Linked DNA regions of Homo sapiens: region 2 is linked to region 1. A link means that fine-mapping ties the variant in region 1 to the expression of a gene that starts in the linked region. Tissue or cell type: whole blood. Region 1 holds a variant in brackets; the other region holds the start of a gene. All regions are shown on one strand. Distances are from middle to middle.

What was found. PIP is the estimated chance that this variant, and not a neighbour inherited with it, causes the effect.
Region 2: UVRAG starts here. The variant in region 1 is fine-mapped to the expression of UVRAG in whole blood (INTERVAL, PIP 0.91).

Annotation. Positions count from the first base shown.
Region 1 is chr11:75,735,191-75,743,293 of GRCh38, reverse strand. It overlaps the pseudogene RN7SL786P. Among named protein-coding and RNA genes, the nearest start is that of MOGAT2, 21 kb to the right of the region's middle. The variant G/T (reference allele first, on the strand shown) is at 3,894.
Region 2 is chr11:75,811,457-75,819,559 of GRCh38, reverse strand. It overlaps UVRAG (UV radiation resistance associated), which reads right to left and starts at 4,350. Exons shown (of 15, transcript NM_003369.4): 1 at 4,036-4,350. The coding sequence starts at 4,152. It overlaps UVRAG-DT (UVRAG divergent transcript), which reads left to right and starts at 4,763. Exons shown (of 2, transcript NR_144531.1): 1 at 4,763-5,097; 2 at 5,699-6,046. RefSeq lists a silencer at 4,027-4,226 and enhancers at 4,522-4,816, 4,687-5,116, 5,040-6,239.

The DNA.
Region 1 (8,103 bases):
GAAGGAAGCAGGGAATTGCGGAAGCCAAGAGGAGGCACCTCACAGCCTGGAGGGAGGTTGGATCAGGGATGGCTTTTTGGTGGAGTTAATGTCTAAAATGACTTAAAAGACTAAGGAGGAATTGAATTTGAGTAGTGAACAGCATCTTAGGCAGAGGGAACAGCTTGTGTAAAATGCTGGTCCTGGGGGAAGCAAGGTGCCCTAGAGAACTGGAAGTTCAATATGGCTGGAGGGTAGAGAGTGGCTGGGAAGGAAGACAGAAACCAGACTGTGCGGGCTGTATGCCAGCCAAGGAGCTGGACAGATAGACCACTGGGAAGTTTGAATCAGGTGAATGGTATGGTCAGACTTACATTAGAAAGATCCTTCTGGCTGCAAAGTGGAGGGTGGATAGCTTAAGATAGATTTGAGGTGGAAGATAAGACAACTCATTAATTGAGGGCTGACAGAGGCTTGCAGGCAGAAAGGCAAAGTCCAGGATATTATGCAGGTATTCATATAACAAGCGATGAAATGTGTTTCTACAAGATATTTGTTGTTGTTGTTGTTGTTGTTTTTAGAGATGGAATCTCACTCTGTTGCCCAGGCTGGAGTGCAGTGGTGCGATCTCGGCTCACTGCAACCTCCACCTCCTGGGTTCCAGCAATTCTCCTGCCTCAGTGTCCCAAGTAGATGGGACTACAGGCACCCACCGCCACGCCCAGCTAATTTTTTTTTAAATTTTAGTAGAGGCAGGATTTCACCGTGTTGCCCAGGCTGGTCTTTAACTCCTGAGCTCAGGCAATCTGCCCACCTAGGCCTCCCAAAGTGCTAGAATTACAGGCATGAGCCACCATGCCCGGCCTGTTTTTGTTTTTGTTTTTTTAAAGAGATGGGGTCTCATGAAGTTGCCCAGGCTGGAGTGCAGTGGCTATTCACAGGTGCGACCCCACTACCAATCAGCACAGGAGTTTTAACCTGCTCCATTTCTGACCTGGGCTGGTTTACCCCTCCTTAGGCAACCTGGTGGTCCCTTGCTCCCAGGAAGTCACCATAATGATGCTGAACTGAGTGTGAACACACAATTGGTATAGCACACTACAGCCCAGAGCTCCTGGGCTCAAGCGATCCTCCTGCCTCAGTCTCCAGAATAGCTGGGACTAAGGTGCATGACATCACACCTGGCTACAAAATTTTAACTGTAAACCCAAAGTAAATAATTGAGTATAATTTTTTGTAACATAGGTCTTGTAATAAGAATAATGAAGTTCTTTTTTGGAAGATAACATTTTAGTTCACTGGGGCTCAAAGTTCGTGTTTCCTATCATTAAATTGATTTCAAATGTTCATCTGTAAAAACCGTTCTTAGCCCACAGGTCATTCAAACAGAGGCTATAGCTTGCTCACCCTTAGTCTAGACTAATGGGGCCTTGGTAGAAGCGAGTAAGAAACAGGAGGCTCTTCCCTCCCCTCTTTACCGTCCCACAAGCCACAGTGCCTAAATCTTTGCCATTACTACCATTACTAAGCATTGCTGCTTCCACTGGGCTCTAGTTACTAGGAGGGACCTAGATCCTTTAGTCAAAAGAAAGACGCCAGGAATATAAACATCCCATAATTATGACCTCTCAGGGCAAGAGGGATCTCAGTAGTCCCTCTCCAGCCCTTTTCCAGGGCAGAATTAACATATATGTTTTGTAGAATCACTATATACTCCAGATACAGAAAGTGACTTACCCGAGGACATGCTGCAAGTTGCTGACAGGACTGGGACTTGAACTCAGGTCTTAGGATCCCTAACCCCACATTTCTTTATTTATACTACCATGAGGACATGGCCAATGTGGATGGGAGGAACACATGGGGAAGAGAGTAGTGTCAGGTCTCATTTGCCCAAGACAAGGGGCTCTTCAGGCTCCTGCCTTCCCCTTCTACCAGTCCAGTGGCAGATCAGCCCTCCTAATTTATTTCACATTTGCATATATCACTTCCAGATGAGGAACCTGAGTCTCAGAGAGAGTGAAGAACTTGCCTAGCATCTGTGGTAGGCTGAAAAGTGGCCCCCCAAAAGATATCTACATCCTAGTCTCTACAACCTGTGGATGTTAGCTTACATGGCAAAAAAGGTTGAGGGAGCTCTGCAGATGTGATTATGCTGAGGATCTTGAGATGGGAGCTTACCCTGGATGATATGGACAGGCTCTGAATGCCATTACATGTTCATAAGAGGGAAGCAGAGAGAGATTCTACGAGACACAGAGGGCAGAAGATGATGTGATGGTGGAAGCAGAGAGAAAGATTTGAAGATGCTGCTACCTGTGGAGATGGAGGAAGGGCCCATGAGCCAAGGAAAGTAGCTCTAGAAGCTGGACAAGTTAAGGAAACAGATTCCCCCCTAGAGCCTCTGGAGGGAAGTGGCCCTGCTGGCACCTTATCAAACTGACACCATTGCCACTGATTTCAGACTTCTTGCCTTCAGAACTGTAAGAGGATACATTTCTGTTGTTTTAAATGACTAAGTTTATGGTAATTTGCTATAACAGCTGCAGAAACCTAACATGACATCTCACAGCAATTGTTCTCAATGTAAATAAAATTTTAATTTTAGAATAGTTTTAGATTTACAGAAAAGATGCACAGATAGTAAAGAGAATTCCTATACACACTTCACCTTAAATGTTCAGAACTATTACACATTTGTCACAACTAAAAAGGCAAGATTGGCACATTACTATCAAACTCCTTATTTTATTCCAATTTTACTGGTTTTTCCTAGTGACTTCTATCTGTTAGAGGATCCCACCCAGGATACCATATTTCATTTAGATATCATGTCTTCTTAGCCTCCTCTGGTCTGTGACAGTTTCTCAGATTTTCCTTGTATTTGATGATGTTTAGTTTTGAGAAGTACAGGTCAGGTGTTCTGTGGGCTGTTCCTCAATATGGATTTATCTGATGTTTTTCTCCTGATTAAACTGGGGTTATGGCGTTTGGGGAGAAAGGCCACAGGAGTGATGTGCCATTCTCATCATAATACATCAAGGGTACTTACTATCAACATGACTTATCACTGGTGATTTTAACCTTGATCACCTGGCAGAGGTAGTGTTTTCTAGGTGCTTTCACTATAAAGTTACTCCCTGTCCCTCCCTCCACACCCAGCTCTTTCTCAGTGCTACCCTTGGAAGCAAGTCTCTAAGCACAACCCAGTTCAACTGGGAGAGGGCTGAGCTTCATCTCAGGGGGAATATCTACAGAAGTTATTTGGGATTCTTCTCTTAGGGAGATTTGTCTCTTCTCTCCCATTTATTTATTATTCAATCATTTATATCAGTATGTACTCATGGATATTTATTTTACACTTTGGATTATAATCCCAGTACTATGTTGTTTATTTTATTGTTTGAATTGTTGCAGCTGTGGACATTGGGAGCTTGTTCTGTTTGGCTCCTGTGTCCTTTTGAGATATCCTCATCATTTTGTTTTTTTAAGCACTTCTTTACTTTCTGGCACTACAAGATTTTTCAGGCTCATCTTGCATTTTCCCTACTCCAGCCCTAGAATCAGGCATTTCTTTAAGTGTCTCAGGAATTCTTTTTATATTTATTTTTATTTTTTACTTATTTTATTTTATTTTTGAGATGGAGTTTTACTCTTGTCTCCCAGGCTGGAGTGCAGTGGTGCAATCTTGGCTCTCTACAACTTTCGCCTCCTGGATTCAAGCAATTCTCCCACCTCAGCTTCCTGAGTAGCTAGGATTACAGGTGCCTGCCACCACGCCTGACTAATTTTTGTATTTTTAGTAGAGAAAGGGTTTCACCATGTTAGCCAGGCTGGTCTTGAACTCCTGACCTTATGATTCTCCCACCTCAGCCTCCCAAGTGCTGGGATTACAGGCATGAGCCACCGTGTCT[G/T]GCCAGGAATTCTTTTTTTAGAGAAAGGTATTAGAAACCAAGATCTGAGCTCTCGGTGTGCTAGTTGCTACTGGGTGCCACTGTTTCTAGTCCCTCTCAGAAGACAGAGCTAGGAGACATATATTTCCCATGTATACATACCTATTTATAATTGCATCTATCCAGCTGTGTCTATATTAAACTAAATATGAGTTCATATGATGTCTCCCTCTAATTCCTTACCACATGGATCATTCTAGTCATCCTCCTTCTCCAACAGTGAGAAAAGTGGCCCCTGTCATCTATTTACTTATGTGTTCAATTGCAACACATGTATGGCAGTTTCAGACTTGTTACCCTGCACCCCCATGATAAATTCATCTTTACCAAGTACGGTGCAGTGTTTATGGACATTGTATTTTTACATCAGTCTTGCAGTTTCCAGTCAAAATATTCTTTCCCAAAGTTACTTAGGTCAGCCCTTTGTTCTCTCACTCCCTTCAGTGAAGTTTTCTCATACATTTATAAGACAATTGAGATTCTTTCATCATCACAGTCTGCATTCTACCCTGGGATACCTTAACTTTTTGGGCGATTCTAAAAGTTTAATTTCTGTACATTAAAGTTTACCTTGTGGGTTTTTTTTTGGGGGGTGGGGGATGGAGTTTCACTCTTGTCACCCAGGCTGGAGTGCAGTGGCATGATCTTGGCTCACCGCAACCTCCACTTCCTGGGTTCAAGCGACGTTCCTGCCTCAGCCTCCCGAGTAGCTAGGATTATAGGCGCCTGCCACCTAGCCTGGCTAATTTTTGTATTTTTAGTAGAGACGGGGTTTCACCATGTTGGCCAGGCTGGTCTCGAACTCCTGACCTCAGGTGATCCACCCACCTCGGCCTCCCAAAGTGGTAGGATTACAGACATGAGCCACCGCTCCTGGCCTACCTTGTGGTTTTTAACAAATGCATAGTATCAAGTAGACAGCACTATAATACCATAGGAATTAGTTCTACTGCCCTAGAAAGCTCCCAGTGCTTCCTCAGCCATAGGCTCCCTACAGCTGATATGCTTTTTTGTCCCTATATGTTATCCTTTTCCAGAATGTCATAGGAGTGAAATCATACAGTATGTAGCCTTTTTGGTCTGGCTTCTTTGGCTTAGCAAAATGCACTTAAGATTCATCCATGCTATTGTGTGAATTTACAGCTCAGTTATCTGTATTTCTGAATAGGATTCCATTGTATGGATTGAACCACAGGTTTTTAAAACATCCATTCACCTATTGAAGGACATCTTGGTTGCTTCCAGTTTTTGGTGATTATGAATAAAGTGGCCATAAACATTCATGTACAGGTTTTCATATAGACTAGTTTTCCAATCAGTAGAGTAAATACCTAAGAGCACAGTTGCTCAGTTGTGTAGTAAGTCTATGTTTAACTTTATGAGAATCTGCCAAACTGTCTTCTAAAATGGCTGTGCCATTTTGAATAAATAAGAGTTATTTTTAATTTTACAGATTAAATCCAACCATTCTGATCCTTTCTTTTGTTTCCCAAGCTGGTAGTCAGGTCACACTTTATTAGACAAAAATACAGCCTTTGCAGTCAGATCTGAATTCAAATCCTCGCTCCACCACTTAAAAACAGTGTGACTGCAGACAAATTTTTTAACCTCTCCGAGCCTCGTACTGAGATTTACCCCTTTAAATACGCATGATGTCACAGATTGGGTTCTCCAGGAAGTGGATTCTGAGATGGTGTGTAGCCTACAGGATGTTTCTTAGAGAACCTTTGGAGTCAATACCACAAGAAGGAAGGGAACGCAGCAAATTTGGATGGAGGGAGAAGTCAAACTGAAATGTCCCATCAGAGTTGTATTGATCTGGGCTGACGTGGCCCGGCCTTTCTACCCTGGCTGGCTCAGTCATGGGCTGTATGCCCTTGCAGAGGCAGCTCTCTGCAGTGGAGGTGATCTCAGAAGGGGCAGACTACACTTCCTGCAGCTGGGAATGGAGTTCTTCCCCGAAAATGCGCCTGGGGACACATCCTCGTATCCACTGCCCAAGGCAGAGTGGAAAGAGCACTGGGTGGGAACTGGGATGCCAGTTCTGCATCTGCCACTTACCAGCTATGTGACTTCAGGCAAGCCCTGCCCTTCTAGGAGCCTTCTCAGCTTATCTGGGTGAAAGTGGCTAAGATGACATCCCTAACCAATTAGTGTATAGCACTTTGCAATTCACCGGTTAGTTTTGTGTTTCTTAACTCGCAACAACCTTACAATGCCAGCATTTAGTCACAACAAAGAGTTCCAGGGCAGTGCTGTGTTACTCCAATGTGGTCTGGAGACCAATGCACGTCCATGAACAGCTTGTTACTGGTTCTTGACAAAATAATTACAGAAATGGAGCGGAACTGTTCAGAGACTTCAGAGCAATATGGCACAGTAATTTCATGTCTGTTGAAACTAATAATAAAATGTTATACTATGTCTTAGTTTTCTTTTCTCATTTTTCTAGTAACTTATATTGTGTCTTATAAAATGGATAGGTCCATGAAGGATTGGGAAAAAAAGCAAAAACCAAAAATCTGGTCGTTTACCACAGACATTTCAAGAAGCATTGACCTAGGGCATCCCCAAATGCAGGCTTTTGACAATTTTACTTTTTTTTTTAGAGGAGGGGCTCTTTTGGCTGGGCACAGTGGCTCACACCCGTAATCCCAGCACTTTGGGAGGCTGAGGCGGGTGGATCAACTGAGGTCGGGAGTTCAAGACCAGCCTGACCAACATGGAGAAACCCCGTCTCTACTAAAAATTCAAAATTAGCCGGGTGTGGTGGCGCATGCCTGTAATCCCAGCTACTCAAGAGGCTGAGGCAGGAGAATCGCTTGAACCCGGGAGGCGGAGGTTGCGGTGAGCCAATGTCGTGCCATTGCACTCCAGCCTGGGCAACAAAAGTTAAACTCTGTCTCAAAAAAAAAAAAAAAAAAGAGGAGGGGCTCTTAAATCATTGACATGTTATTGATAGGGACAGAGTTTTGTGGCTGTTTTTTGTTCTTTAAGGTCCCCTTTAAAAGGGGCTGACGCTGGGCACGGTGGCTCAAGCCTGTAATCCCAGCACTTTGGGAGGCCGAGGCAGGCAGATCACGAGATCAGAAGTTCGAGACCAGCCTGGCCAACATGGTGAAACCCGTCTCTACTAAAAATACAAAAAAATTAGCCGGGCGTGGTGGCATGTGCCTGAAATCTCAGCTACTTGGGAGGCTGAGGCAAGAGAATTGCTTGAACCCGGGAGGCAGAAGTTGCAGTGAGCCGAGATTGTGCCACTGCACTCCGGCCTGGGCAACAGAGCAAGACTCTGTCTCAAAAAAAAAAGCTAAAAGGGGCTGCCAGAAACGAGCTGCCTGTCATAATTTTCTCCTCACCTTATCACTAAAGATGTGAACAGATGTACACCAGTTCAACTGTTGAAAAGGGAAACAGGTTGGTTTTCCAGCAGGGGTTGAAGGGACTCTAGAGTCTTAGAAATGCCCTAACCTCATTTGTGATAGACACAAACTCTCGTAAGTCTTTCAAAAACCATTTCCTGGAATTTATAAAGGGGGAGAGGGAGGAAGAACTGGCATTTATTGAACACCCATTTGTGGGAAGACCATTTACAAGTGAAGAAACTGAGACTCAGCAACTGGACCTGACTTGCACAGGGTCACGCAGCCAGGCTGGCTCTCCGGCCTCTGCCATTTCCATTGTGCCATTCGGCTGGGTCTGAGGCCAGAACCCAGCAGAATGTGAGGAGCATGTGATAGCTGTCTGGGCAGGCAGTCCACGTCTTGGGGCCAGGATTCCAGAAAGTCCTTTAGCCTTTCTGACAAATGAACCTCATCTATTATAAAGAGGTCACTGTGGGTGTGTTTGACATAATACATGTAGAGCATCCCATCCAGATCCTAGCACATAGTAGGTCCTCAGTAAATGGCTCAGGGTGCTGACTCTGCCCTTCTGTGAGGTCATTAAGACAAATGCCCTGTTCAACCTAAGGCATTTTTTGCCCTTGTGGCCTTGCCCTTGACCTACACCAGCTCAAGGACTTTCCAGGGCTCCTCCCTACCTTTGGGAGAAATTCCTGACTCCTTGACTGGACATTTGGCTTCCACCATTCAGTAGACAAGGGAAAGCCAGGGACCCAATCCAGCTTGGTTGCCACTCTGTCCCCAGCACTTGGCACATAGCAAGGACT
Region 2 (8,103 bases), 76 kb before region 1:
AGCCTGCCAACATGGTGAAACCCCATCTCTACCAAAAATACAAAAATTAGCTGGGCATGGTGGCACAGCCTGTGATCCCAGCTATGCGGAAGGCTGAGGTGGGAGGATTGCTTGAACCCGGGAGGGGCAGGTTGCAGTGAGAGGAGATTGCACCACTGCATTCCAGCCTGGGTGACCAGAGTAAAACTGTCTCAAAAATCAAAAACAAAACAAAAAAAAAGTGTAAAAAAAATGTGTCACTAGTTCTTGCTCAAATTACAGTAAAGTAAGATCACATAGAAGCAAAAGGAGACAAAATTAAGTAGTAGTCCCATCTGACACAGTCAAGGGGCTGATATGGACTATAGTTAGTACTCATACATGGAAAAGTTCAGGTGTTTGCAGTGTTAACTTTTTAAACATTACAGCCACTTCTAGAATCAACAGGACTTAATGAAGATTGAAATAAATGAGTCAATAATAACAAGGATACTCTCTATCCTAAAATGAAAATACACCTTAGTAAGGTGGTTCTCAACTAGGGGTAATTTTGCCCCCTAAGAAACATTTGGCCATGTCTGAACTCATTTTTGATTGTCAGGACTGGGGAGGTGCTGCTGATATCTTGGGATGTGGCTAAACATGTAACAGCCCATCTTCACTCCAAAATGTCAACAGTCCCAAGGTTGACAAACCCCATCTTAGAAGAAGGTTGGGAGCCACTGAATCTATGTTTTGAGATAACTTGATCATAAAAATCCTAAACCAACCGGGCTTGTTTATTTGTTTAGAAATATTGATACCAGCCGGGCGCAATGGCTCACACTTGTAATTCTAGCACTTTGGGAGGCCGAGGTGGGAGGATCACAAGGACAGGGGTTCCAGACCAGCCTGGCCAACACAATGAAACCCCGTCTCTACTAAAAATACAAAAATTAGCTGGGCGTGGTGGCAGGTGCTTGTAATCCCAGCTATTTGGGAGGGTGAGGCAGGAGAATCGCTTGAACCCAGGAGGCAGAGGTTGCAATAAGCCAAGATCGCGCCACTGCACTCCAGCCTGGGCAACAGAGCTAGACTCCATCTCAAAAAAAAAAAAAAATTGATACCTTGCCAACTAGTACGGGATGTATTAAAATGTATGGTTTTGAAAGTATTATTTAAAGGAAAGTTAACAACTGACATTCCAATTTATCTAAATATTTGAAATTTTGTAAAAGCAAAAAAAGGCAACAAAGTAATACTTAAAAAAAAAACATTAGACATACACAGATACTCCATGACTCTCACAAACAATACTGAGTAAAAGAAACCAGACACAAAAAAATACATTTTGCACAACTCCATTTATATAAAGCTCAAGAACAGGCAAAAACTGATCTTTTACATTAGAAATCAGAAAAGTGGTTCCTTTAGAGAAAAAGGAAAAACAGAGATGGAAGAGAACATAGGAGGACTTCCAGGATGTTAATAATTTTGGGGTTTTTGGGGGGTTTTTTGTTTGTTTGTTTGTTTGTTTGTTTTTAGATAGAGTCTCACTCTGTCACCCAGGCTGGAGTGCAGTGGCGCAATCTCGGCTTACTGCAACCTGCGCCTCCCAGGTTCAAGCAATTCTCTTGCCTCAGCCTCCCAAGTAGCTGGGATTACAAATGTGCGCCACCACATCTGGCTTTTTTTTTTTTTTTCTTTTTTTTGTACTTTTAGTAGAGACAGGGTTTCAGCATGTTGGCCAGGCTGGTCTTGAACTTCTGGCCTCAAGTGATCCCCCCACCTCAGCCTCCAAAAGTGCTAGGATTACAGGTGTGAGCCACTGCGCCCAGCCAAAATTTTGTATCTCTTAATCTGGGTAGTACTTACATAACTGTTCCCTTGGTGACAATTCATCCACTGAATACTGATAATCTGTGTACTTTACTATATACAGATAAAACTTCAACAAAATTTTATTGATATTATTTATACACTAAAAATCTGAGCATTTTGACCCCAAAAGATAAATTGATGTCAACTGCAAAAGTAAAAGTGCTTTGTTATATAGGCTGCCTTCCAAGAATTCAAGGTTGACACCCCCAGAAAGATGTAAATAGCATACTCGGCACTCATATAGCATTCAGCTGTACACTTAAGCCACTATATATCCCTCGGCACCAATCCAAAAATTTCACAAACACTAACAAATGAGGCTGAAATTATTCCATCAACAGTTTGTTTGCATTAGTTTTCCCAGTGTTAAACTGTGAACTGTTATCAGAGAATAGGCTCCATGAAGTAAATGATGCTTTCTCTTTCCTAATCCCACACACTCTCGAAGCTCCCCCAAACTAAAACCTTCTTGGCCCCTGAACTCCTTAGGACTTCTCCAGGGTGTTTCTAACGGTGCTCCCTATTCCCTCTCCCAGTAACCACTCTCACACTCTACCTCCCACACATACAAAAACTCACATTAATGCTCACTCCAGAGACGTGTCTCCCTCCCTAGCCAGACTTCTACCCTCTCCCTGTATCTCACAACACAATCCAAACCCCCACTACCCTCAAACTCCCACTATTCAGAAATTCCCTGCCAACAGCATCACAAAACCAGGGCACATGGTATCTTTTCAATCCTCTTCGGTAGTAGTCACACAAAAAGCCGTTGCTACTGTAAGCTCTTCTGCCTGCCTATTCAAAGGCAACCACAGTGGTTATTATCTCCAACTCTTCTCTTCCCTTTAGCCCCCGCCTCCTTTACTGCACTCAAATCCATTTCACTTTTCAACCACTCTCTCCCCTACAACCTCTCCCTTCCTCTTTCTGAATCCTTCCTAAGTCCCACTGGTAGCTGATGGAAAGTTGGAGGGGTGTATGAAAGAACTCACTCTGTCCTGTGTAAAGGTGGTGGAGGAAGGCTGCCCAAGTCTCAAGCACGTGCATGGCTGCAGAGTCAGACACTGGATTCTGCAACCCAGCCCCACCACTTACTAACTGGAAGGCTCTGGACAAGCCTCAGTTTCCTCAACTGCCAAATGGGGGTAATAAAAACAGCTATCTCACAGAGTTGTGAAAATTCAGTGAACTAATGGCCACTGAGCCCTTTGCACAAATCCAACACGGTAAGTTCTCAGTAAATGACAGTTTCTCTAGATCCTCTTCTTGGCAGGAGGAATAAAGGGAGAGGGTGAAAGGTATTCTTTAGGTCTCTTTAATGCTAAGATTCCTGCAAAATCTCCCCTTGGGGGACAGAAGGAAGGCAACCGATATAAGGAGGGAAGTACTCTACAGATATGTGAGTGAAACAAAGAGTTTTGTCACATCTCCAAAGTCAGTGTTTCCCCCTTCTTATCTTCCTACAACGCAGAGCCAAGAAGTCCTCAAAGCCCTTCCTAAAGGATGGAGGAACACATGAATATATACATCAAATCCTCCTTCCACAGAGACTCACTGAAGGGAATGAAGAAGGAAAAAGTCCTCCTAATTATTAAGATGCGTTCCTTGGGACTCGGAGAATTAGGAAGGAAACCCCCAAGTCTTGAATACATTTCTCTAAAGAGGCCGAATACTTAATAATCAGGGGAGATTAAAGCAAATGGTAGACACCCTAAAGTCTCCTCCAGGGCTCTTGCACGAAGAGTACAAACTGGTTTCTCCGTAAGCGGGGATGGCCAGGTGGGGAAAGAAAGGAAAAGTGCTTTCACTATGGCCCGTGGGACACAGGGGGTTCCCCGGGTCCCTTCCTGGGCGGAACGAGGGAGAGGGTCTGCGCGGGGCAATCCCCGGCTCCCTGCGTTGGGGGAGGCGGCCTCGGGCCGGGGCCCCAGGGACTTGAGCTGGCTGGCTGCTTGTCCCTTAACAAGCCCATCTCCTGTAACGGGATTCTCCTAGGACTCCGGGATCTCCCGGAGGTTCGGCCATCACTGGACCCCTCCCCGCACAAACCTCCTGACAGTCTTCCTCAGTCCCGCGAGCCCTCCGGGTCCCTGCTCTGGGTGTCCCGGCTCGCGGGGTCAGCCCGGAGCCAGCAAGCTCTCCACGCGGGCCTGCCCGGGTCCCTCCCGAGTGCTGCGAGCCGCGCGGGCTTACCTGCTGAGACGGCAGCTCCACATGCAGGGCCCGCGCGGCAGAACCGGGAGGCAGAGCAGCGGCCGGGCCCGGGGGTGGCTGGGGGACGGGGCCCCCGACCGACGCGGAGGCGCTCATCTCGATCCAGGGGCCGCCAAGCGGCGGGGCGGGCACTCTTCCGGCATCCGCCGCCGCCCCCTTGCCACCACCTACCAAGCCCCTGCAGCCTAGAAACCCGCCACCCGAGAGGCACTACTGCTCAGCCCAGACAGTAGCCGCCGCCGCTGCCGCCGCTGCCGCCGTTGCCGCCGCTGGCTAAGGAAGAGCCATATTACCGCAGTGCAACCCCTCCACCCCGCTGAGACCCGGAGCGCTCATTGGCTTAGCCCTCAAGGGGGCGGGACCCAACGGCAGAAAAGGGGCGTGCTATTGGGTAGAAGGTCTGTCCATCGCTGGCATTACTGGACTTGGGGGCGGAGGGACTCAAGGATGGCCTCAATTGCGTCTGTCAAGCCGGGGTGAAACCTGGGGCGTTGCTTCTTTTTTTCCCAGTCTAATTGGTTCTTTTACTACCAACGGGCAGAGTCTCCTGGTGGAGGCGGAAGGGCCATTGCAAGAGGTCGCTGTCAATTGTCAGTAAAGGGAAAGAGGGGTGGGGTCTTGATTAGGTAGAGCGCGCTTCTGGGCTCCGGTGTCACGTGCAGGAGGCGGGAGAGTCACCTGATTAGGGAGAACCGGTCTTCTGAGCCACTTCCGCCCTCACTGGTTGCCGTGGTAACAGGCCTCCGGTGGAGGGCGGGGACCCTCGGAAGCCAGCTGGGTGGCGATCGCTTGTCTGCCTTGGCAGGCCCCTTGTGCAGTCTTTTCCCGGCGTGAGCGTGCAGGGATTGAAAAGGAATGCTTTATGGTTCAGCAGAGAGCCACCACGCAGGATGCACTGGGACCTGAGAACCGTCGGGCAGTCCCACGAGCTCTTTCATGACCAGCTCCAACCGACAAGTACACGCCCCTTCGCACTCCACTAGCTAGTAAGCTGAGCTACAAGGTGTGCCAGGCACCCAGGACGCCGATTCACCGCTTCAGGTGGGCTGTTTGTGCTGTGTCCCCAGAAAGCCTTTGCTACTTATCCATCAGTCTTAGCTGGGGCAGGAGTCCCTTCTTCCAAAAGGCTTCTCTGAGCCTCTCTGGGACCTTGAGTTAGGAATTTTGACCCTACCGTGGGTCTGGATTATTCTATTAATTTTTTTTAACAGTGCCTCATTCTTTCGCCCGGGCTGGAGTGCAGTGGCAAAATCACGGCTCATTGCAGCCTCGACCTCCTGGGCTCAAGTGATCCTCCCACCTCACCCTCCTAAGTAGCTGGGAATACAGGCACATGCCACCAGGCCCAGCTAATTTTAAAATTTTTTTGTAAAGATGGGGTTCTGGCCATATTTCCCAGACTAGTCTCAAACTCCCAGGCTCAAGCGATCCTCCAGTCTCGGGCTCCCAAAGTGTTGGGATTACAGGCATGAGCCACCAGGCCTGGCCACATTGTCTTTTAACACATGTAAGCAGCCACCCTCCTTCCCACACACACACAAAATACTGTGAATTCTTCAAGCAAAAGGACTTTGTCTGATTCATCTCTGGATCCCCAGTGCCTGACAGAGAATCAGGAAATTTTTTTTTTTTTTTTTTGCAGTGAAGGCCCAGCTCAAATGCCACCTCTTCCATGAAGACTTCCGTGATCCACAATGATAGCATCTCCAGCAATTGCTTCTATAATGAATAGCATGAGTCATTCTGCAGGATGTTGATCTTCCTTTTTTTACTCCTAGACTGAATTTTTCCACCACCTGGATGAACATAGCAGAAAGAACATAGTGTTTTAGAGTCAGACACAATAGGAATCAGGCACTTTGGAATCTTGGCTCTACCACCTTTGAGCTATGTATCCCAAGGCAAGTCACTTCCCCTCTCTCAGCTTTAAAATAGTAATAGGATTGCTGTAGGGATTAAAGTAAATCAACATATGTAAAGTGCCCACACAGGACCTGGCATATAGTAGTTGCATTTTAAATTTTTTAAACAAAATGTAAGCATACTATCTTTCCAGGGTGTTCAGAAGCCTGAAAAACACCTTGGATCTTTTCTCAGAGCTGGATCACAAAGATGTCACACTGTCTCCTGTTCTGACACACTGAGTGGTTCCTCATGGCTGGAGCCTGGGGCGTGTGGTCAGGTGTTTGTTGAGAAAGGAGTCGCTTGATCAGGTGTTTGTTGAGAAAGGAGTCACTGGGAAATCCCAAATATTATCTGATTGAACTCATGTGGTGCCAAGATCTGGGGGAATTTCACAGAAAACACATTTCTGTTTCTAAGCTGTATTAGTTTTCTGAGGCTGCCATAACACATTATCACAATTCTTGCTTGAGCCCAAGAATTTGGGACCAGCCTGGGCAACATGGCAAAACCTTGTCTCTACAAAAATACAAAAATTAGCCCAGCATGTCGTTTTCACCTATAGTCCCAGCTACTGAGGAGGCTGAGGTGGGAGGATTACCTGAGCCTGGGGAGGTTGAGGCTGCAGTGAGTCAAGATCATGCCACTGTACTCCAGCTTGGGCAACAGACTGAGACCCCATATCAAAAACAAACGAAGAGTGATCATCCAGTTACTCACTGCTGGGTCTGAGGGAAGCCCAAAGGCAGTGGGAGCCAGAGAAAATAGTTGAGAGTCAGATTTCACAGTGGAGGTGACATTGAAACAGGGTATTGAAGGGCCAATAAGAGTTCACCAAGTCAGGAGAGAGGGAGGAAAGGACATTCCAGCAGAGAGCAGGATCTATTCTTTCCACAAGCCTTTACTGAGGTTCACCTTTGCACAGGCTAGCTACTGGGTTCTGGAAATGCAGAGCTCAAGTAAACAACCCTTCTCCCACTTTTCCCAAATGCCGAAAACATTAGGAGAACTAGGACTCTCATCCCTAGGGGCATTGGGAAGAACTCAAAAGCCTGCTGCTTGCAAAGTATTCAAGATGATGTAAAGCATTTAACACACTGTCTGGGAGATAGTACATTTTTAATAAATACTAGCTGTCATTATTTTCATATGTCCTATTTCATTCTAAAAACTTTTCTTTCTTGTTTTTGAGACAGAGTCTCTCTCTGTGACTCAGGCTGGAGTGCAGTGGTGCGATCTCAGCTCACTGCTACCTCTGCCTCCCAGGTTCAAGTGATTCTCCTGCCTCAGCCTCCCAAGTAGCTGGGACTACAGGCATGCACCACCACACCCAGCTAAGTTTTTTTGTATTTTTAGTAGAGACAGGATTTCACCATGTTGGTCAGGGTGGTCTTGAACTCCTGACCTCAAATGATCCACCCACCTCAGCCTCCCAAAGTGCTGGGATTACAGGCATGAGCCACCGCGCCCGGCCCTAAAAACTCTTTTATTATTGGGATCCTATTTCATAATATGGCTGATTGTTTCAACATAAAAATATTTTAAATCACAGAATTAAATTATTATAATATTTACATAGTGCTATATATCCCCCAGAGAAACATATATCCAAGTTTAGAGAACATAGATTATAAGGTGGCCAAATGCAATGTATATGCAATGATAGAAGGGGTCCAAGGTCAAGTGGTAAGAGTGACCAACTCTTCAGGAGCTGGTGGGCAAGGTCAGAGCAGGCTTCACCAAAGTTATAAAGGATGATTGGGAGTTTAGTAGATGAACAATAGGTGTTTAGATCTGTTTGGCTCGGGAATAGCTAGTGTTTTAACAGCTAATTAGTACCATGTTGGGTATTTAAATCAAACATTCAGTTTCCAGGGCCAAAAAGCTAAGCCTACCCCAATCCATTTGCCTCCACTTCCTCCTCCCACCTCATGGGCCTGATGCATTGGGTAAACAAGAGCAAGATAGGGCAGATGGGTCTTTCAGTGTCTCAAACTGTATTGAGTTAAATCTATCCCCTTCCTTTCAACAGAGCCCTCTTTCTTCCATTCACTTACCTGTCTAGTCAAACACCCATCAGACCTTTGCCAGGTGTCCAGCCTGGGCACTACGTTTCAGAAAATGATGCACATAGAATCCCTAACT